Linked DNA regions of Homo sapiens. The protein of the gene in region 1 purifies or fractionates together with the protein of each later gene. This does not show direct contact. Each region holds a gene or a part of one and is shown on either strand. Other genes may lie near its edges. The genes, in order: ZNF304 and DNAJC10.

What was found.
Region 2: the proteins of ZNF304 (region 1) and DNAJC10 purify together in Homo sapiens (co-immunoprecipitation; one large-scale study listed by IntAct). This does not show direct contact.

Annotation. Positions count from the first base shown.
Region 1 is NC_000019.10:57,353,970-57,357,362, forward strand, and holds part of ZNF304 (zinc finger protein 304), read left to right. Parts: intron 1-1,301; coding exon of another isoform or gene 1,302-1,442; exon of another isoform or gene 1,443-1,815; intron 1,816-2,060; coding exon 2,061-3,393. UniProt on the Homo sapiens protein: Acts as a transcriptional regulator and plays a role in gene silencing.
Region 2 is NC_000002.12:182,791,851-182,795,033, forward strand, and holds the end of DNAJC10 (dnaJ homolog subfamily C member 10 isoform 1 precursor), read left to right. Parts: 3' UTR 1-2,614; downstream 2,615-3,183. UniProt on the Homo sapiens protein: Endoplasmic reticulum disulfide reductase involved both in the correct folding of proteins and degradation of misfolded proteins.

The DNA.
Region 1 (3,393 bases):
CATTTTTTGTTGTTTATTATTTTGAGGGTTTTTTTTTTGTTTTTTGTTTTTTGTTTTTTCAGAGAGTCTTACTCTGTCACCCAGGCTACAGTGCAGTGTTGTGATCATGGTTCACTGCAGCCTCAAATTCTTGGGCTCAAGTGATCCCCCCCACCTCACCCTCCTGAGTAGCTGGGACTATAGGTGCATGCCACCACGCCCGGCTATTTTACTTTTTGTAGAGATAAGGTCTTGCTACGTTGCCCAGGCTGGTCTAGAGCTCCTGACCTCAAGCGATCCTTCCTCCTTGGCCTCCCAAAGTGCTGGGATTACAGGCTTGAGCCAGTGTGCCCAGCCTGATCACACCTTCTTATGCAGGTGCTTTTGGCTCTCATGAAGTTTTAATCAAGCTCTCAGCCAGTGTTGTGGTCTTACCTGAGAAGAATCCACTTACAAGCTCACTCACATTGCTTTTTGCAAGATTTAGTTTCTTGTGGCTTGTTGGACTGTGAGCACTGTTCCTTGCTGGCTGTTGGCCAAAGTCCTCCCTCAGGTGGCCTGTCTGTATTGTACCTTATGACACAGAAGCTAACTTCTCTTTGAGCAAGTGACCAAAAGAATGTTCAAGATGGAAGCCCAGGATTGTAACCTAATCTTGAAAGTGTCATTTCATTATTTTTGCCATATTCTATTCCTTGGAAATAAGTAAGTCCATCCAGCTTACAATCAAGTGAGGAGGCTTACACAGGGGCAAGAGTACCAAGAGGTAGGGATCACTGGGACCATCTCAGAGGCTGTGTTCCACAGGCCTTTACACCCACTCCGGTGTCCTTGGTGGGGTTTGAGTCTTCTTCTCTTCCCCATGGGCCACTCTTTCTGTCCATCCAGATCCATGACTCTTCTCCTTCCCTTCTTTGTTTCCCAGAGTAGGTGCTGTGGGTTCTAGGGCTGGCTGTGTTCAGTGTTTCTGCCTTCACTGGGTAATCTGAACATCTGTTGCCCTAGAGCTTTGCAGGAAAAGGTTAGGATTCGGGAGTTTTTCAGTCTGCTAAGCAGATTCTACACAGCTCAGGTGCCCACTGCCTGAGTCCGTGTCATGATCTTTGCACCTCTTTGTCCTAGATTCTGCCCTCATCCTCTGGCTGACATTTCCTGGGGCCTGACTGTGCCAGGAATTTCAGGGGCTGACACAGTCACTTCTTGTGGTGATTACAGGGCTGTCCTGGTACATCCGCCTTGGAGAGTATTTTTTCTAAACATTCTATTTTCTCTGTGGAGTGGGTCTACCTGCGCCACTCACCTGCCCTTTGTTTGCGTTACAGCTTTCATTTTCCCAGTCCCATGCAGTTGCGCAGTTGGAGGGGGCAGAAAACCTTGGGTGCCTGACAGGGCAGACATCACTGCAGCCACAGTAAAGGAGACCTACAGAGGGCATGGCCCTGCTGAATGGGAGCTGGAAGAGGGTATCTGTTATGGTTGGGTTCAAATCGAACCTTCAACTTGTTTTGTGTTTGTCAGTGTTTTGTTGCCAAGGCCCATAGTGATTCTTCACATCTACTTTACTTTCCTCATTCTTGGCACTTTTTCCATTTGTCATTTCTCACGTGTCTTCCATCCTTTGGGTGTTTTCCCACTTTTCTGGCCTCCGTGTTTCAATTGCTCTCTTCAACACTAGCTTACTTTAATGTGTCATGAGTTCTGCACATTAAATAGTCCGTGAGAATGAGCTACTTATTTGGAGTCAGATTTTCGTGGGCATGGACATACCCATCTGCACAGAGCTCACCTGACACCAGCGGCCAAGGCCCTGCTGAAACTCTCTTGCAGAGGAATCAGGTAGAGGCTTCACCTATACTCCCTATACTCTATGCCATTGTTTTTAGGTCTTTACCTCATAGTCAGGGTTCCTCCATTCTGTGAGGCCCTATACTGACAACCAGCCCTTCTTTACACTGATCCTGGCCCTCTTGTCCTGCCAACAAGCCAGTGGACTCGCACTGGTGTTAGACACACATTTGTGATGGGGCTGCTGCCTCCCACCAAAGTCAGCATGCACTTCACCAGCTCTTTTTTGCTTTCAGGTTTTTGGTGTGAAGCAGAACATGAGGCACCTTCTGAGCAGAGCGTTTCTGTAGAAGGAGTGTCACAGGTCAGGACTGCTGAGTCAGGTCTTTTCCAGAAAGCACACCCATGTGAGATGTGTGACCCACTCTTGAAAGACATTTTGCACCTGGCTGAACACCAGGGATCACACCTTACACAGAAACTGTGCACACGTGGGCTGTGTAGGAGAAGATTCTCGTTCAGTGCAAACTTTTACCAGCACCAGAAGCAACATAATGGAGAGAATTGCTTCAGAGGGGATGATGGAGGGGCCTCATTTGTGAAGAGCTGTACAGTCCACATGTTAGGGAGATCCTTTACGTGCAGGGAGGAAGGGATGGACTTACCAGATAGCTCTGGCCTTTTCCAGCACCAGACCACTTACAATAGGGTGAGTCCATGCAGAAGGACTGAATGCATGGAGTCTTTCCCACACAGCTCCAGTCTCAGGCAACACCAAGGAGACTATGATGGACAGATGCTTTTCAGTTGCGGTGATGAAGGGAAAGCCTTCCTGGACACCTTTACTCTTCTTGACAGCCAGATGACTCATGCTGAGGTGAGACCCTTCAGATGCCTACCATGTGGAAATGTGTTCAAGGAGAAATCAGCTCTTATTAATCACAGAAAAATCCACAGTGGAGAAATATCTCATGTGTGTAAGGAGTGTGGAAAAGCCTTCATTCACTTGCACCACCTAAAAATGCACCAGAAATTTCACACTGGAAAAAGACACTATACATGCAGTGAATGTGGGAAGGCCTTCAGCCGCAAGGACACACTTGTTCAGCATCAGAGAGTTCACACTGGAGAAAGATCTTATGACTGCAGTGAATGTGGAAAAGCCTACAGCAGAAGCTCCCACCTTGTTCAGCACCAGAGAATTCACACAGGAGAAAGGCCTTATAAGTGCAACAAATGTGGGAAAGCCTTTAGCCGTAAAGACACACTTGTTCAGCACCAGAGATTTCATACTGGAGAAAGGCCTTATGAGTGCAGTGAATGTGGAAAATTCTTTAGCCAAAGCTCCCACCTTATTGAGCACTGGAGAATTCATACCGGGGCAAGGCCCTATGAATGCATAGAATGTGGAAAATTCTTTAGCCATAACTCTAGCCTCATTAAACATCGGAGAGTCCACACAGGAGCAAGATCCTACGTGTGCAGCAAATGTGGGAAGGCCTTTGGCTGCAAAGACACACTTGTTCAGCACCAGATAATTCACACTGGAGCAAGGCCTTATGAGTGCAGTGAATGTGGGAAGGCCTTCAGCCGTAAAGACACACTTGTGCAACACCAAAAAATCCACAC
Region 2 (3,183 bases), on another chromosome or scaffold:
ATCTAAATTGCATCTTACATTTCAACAATGGATGTTTAAAGCGTTTAAAAGTTATGTTTTGCATTTTACAACATATTGAAGATACACATTTTAAATTTAACTCTAAACAATGCAATAATCTAGAGAATCAGAGAATTGGATCCTGAAACACCTTATAAGTTCAGTCCTGTTGATTAGTATGTTTCCCTGTCCTAGAGTGCATGAACTTTCAAAGCCAGGACACAATCTTGTTCACTTTTCATGCCATCATCTTGACACTCAATACATGTTCAAAGAGTAAATTAAAGAAAAAAGAGATGCTCAAGTCAATTTATAAGTAATCCTCACAAATGCTTGCATACCATCAGTGAACAATTATTTTTTTATCTCCATGCTATAATCTTGCACAAGTTTCATTAGAATTAAATGCACTATCTGAAGTCTATGTTTATTAAATGAGGATTACAGTAGTTGGTTATCTTTGTGAGGGGTTTTGAGGGTTGTGGAACAGGATAACATTTTGAGGTACAAAAAATAATGAAGAGGATATATTCCAATTTCTTTCCTTCCCCAAGGCTTTTCATTACAGCTGTTATAAACCCTGGTAGAATTGATTGGTTTCCTTTTCAGCTTCCTGTTTTGTCCCTCAATGTTCACAAAAGTCCCATCTGATAAATGTATTGTTTAACCTCTCATTGTTTGAAAGAACACCTCTTTGCTCCCCACAGATTACAGACCTATTGGCTTAAGCAGTCCATCTAAATGCATGCCAGTTTCTTTCTTGATAAATTAGAGGCCTATAACCTCAAACCAGTTTATCTGCAAGAGAAGTGTGTGAAGTTAGACTCAATTCTTCCGCTAATGGAACATCGTAATCCTCCTTGTCATCTTTCCTTTGGCCTTCCTGAATAGAAATCATTTATGAGGAAGTTACATGAGCTCAACATGAGCCCCATGTCACTCAGCAAACATTTATTTGAGTACTTACAATGTGCTAGGCTTTGTTCTATGCATTTAAGATAGTGTATTAAATGTATTGACCTCATGAAGATTCTATTCTCGCAGTGGGGAGATAGACAATAAACAATTAATATAAGCAAATGTTAAGTATGTTAGAAGTATGTTAGAAGATGTGCTGTGAAATAAAGAAAAAGGTAGACCAGGGTATGAGGGATTAGGAGTGTGGGGGCAGCAGCAGGAGAGTTTCGGTATTAAATAGGGTGGACAGGGCAGGTCTCTTGGAGAAGATGCCATTGAAGGAGGTGGAAAAAATGTAGCCACTAAATGGGCTGAGGGTAGAGCATATGAACAGAGAGAAAGGCCAGAGGACAGGCTCCAAGGCATGCTTGGCAGGTTCAAGGAACAGCAGGGAGGCTCATGTGGCTGGAATGGAGTGAGCTAGCAGGAGAGAAGATGAAGTTAGAGGGAGAGAGAAAGTGGGGAGCCAGATCATAGAGGGCTTTGCAGGTCACTTGTAAGGACTTTAGCTTTCTAACTTTTGTAAGGACTTCAACTTCTACTCACAGTGAAATTGTGAAATTCCAGAACCAAAAAGAAGATCCTGGTAAAAGAGAAACTTTCAGCAAAATATATTTAACATTTTATTTGAGTGAAGAACAATTCATCCATCAGGCAGCACTGAGAACCAGAAGACATTCAGAGAGCTCTGCTTTGCGAGGTATGCAGTGAACATTCATAGACAGAAAACAAAAATTAAGTACAGAAATAGCTTGATTGGTTACAGATAGGCATTTGCCTTATTTGGACATGGTCTGCTCCAAATAAGGCAAGTTGGCAGCATGCAATTGGCTGTGACCTATCTGTTACAAAAATATATCTATATAATCCTAAATTAGGTTTCAGTTTATTTAAGTACTAAATTAGGTTGCAATTTATTACATGGGAACTCAAAGTCTGGAGACAGCCTCAGGCCAAGGTCCTCTTGCTTATTTAATTTAGCAATCCTAAAATTTTCCAGAGAGGAAACACATCACACACACACACACACACACACACACACACACACACACACACACTACCTACAAAAAAATAACAATTAGAAAGTAATTGGAGCTTGAAGTATTCTAGAAGACTTTGGAGCAAAGCCTTCCAAATTCTGAGAGGAAAATATTTTTAACCTAGGATTCTATTCATACCTACCCAGACTAACAAGTAGCAGGCAGATGATAAATATATTTTTAGGTGGTTAGGTGATGAAACACCTCCTCCAAATGAAGGCATAAACAACAATGCATGGGGATCCAAGAAACAGTGACTCCAACCCAAGAGAGCAGTGAACAAATCCACAGGACAGCAGCTAAGTAGGAGGCCTAAACATCACCTGGGGCAGATGGGGCGAGAGAGCAGAGAGCTTGGGAAAGAAGTCTCTGAGGAGAAAGAATGAGGCAATAAGTCAGATGCGTATTTGCGGACCTCAGAAAAATTTGAGTACATAGGAAACAATAGATGAAGGATAGAAATAATCCATTCAGATTCTCTCCTTTGCATGATGACCACATTAAACTTACAGAGTAAGAAATGTCATTCTAGATTTGATTCTACTGTTTGTCTTTGCAGTGAGCTATGTTTTTTTATAACATGTAGAAGTGAAATAAACTTGTCACAAAAATGCAAATTGTGTCACCAATTTTCAGCTTAACAACATAAAAATAATTATATACACTGACCCAGGTTAAGGACGGGTAGAAGTACGAATGTCCTTATCTTCCAGAGTGAAGTGAGGCTGTAGTCAGGCATTGCAAACTCACATAGTTAAGGGTGTTTTGTAGGTAAAGTACATGACGGTAGTTAGTGCATGCACTATTTTAAAAAGGCAGTAGTTTCTCTGCTCCAAAAGAGTATTGTCATGAAGAAAGAGACCCAGATGTTCCAGTTTACCCAGAATTTACCCCAATCCGGGTTTTTATGTAAAATATTTCAAATGTTCACAACTACTTAAAACATTTAAATATATGAGGGTCAAACAATACCATATCCAGCCTGGGGTTTCCAGTTTGTGACATTGCTACAGCAGATGGATAAGAAAATGAAGTAAGGTGTTTGAATGTATGAAATTAACCAGTATAGATGTTAAACTGGCAGCAGCAGCTCTAGAGTATGGAAGGGCCATCCGGTCAAAGTCAAGGTGAGGGGAATTTTTTTAAAGCTGTGTTGGCATTGCAAGGATATTATTTGCATTTATTG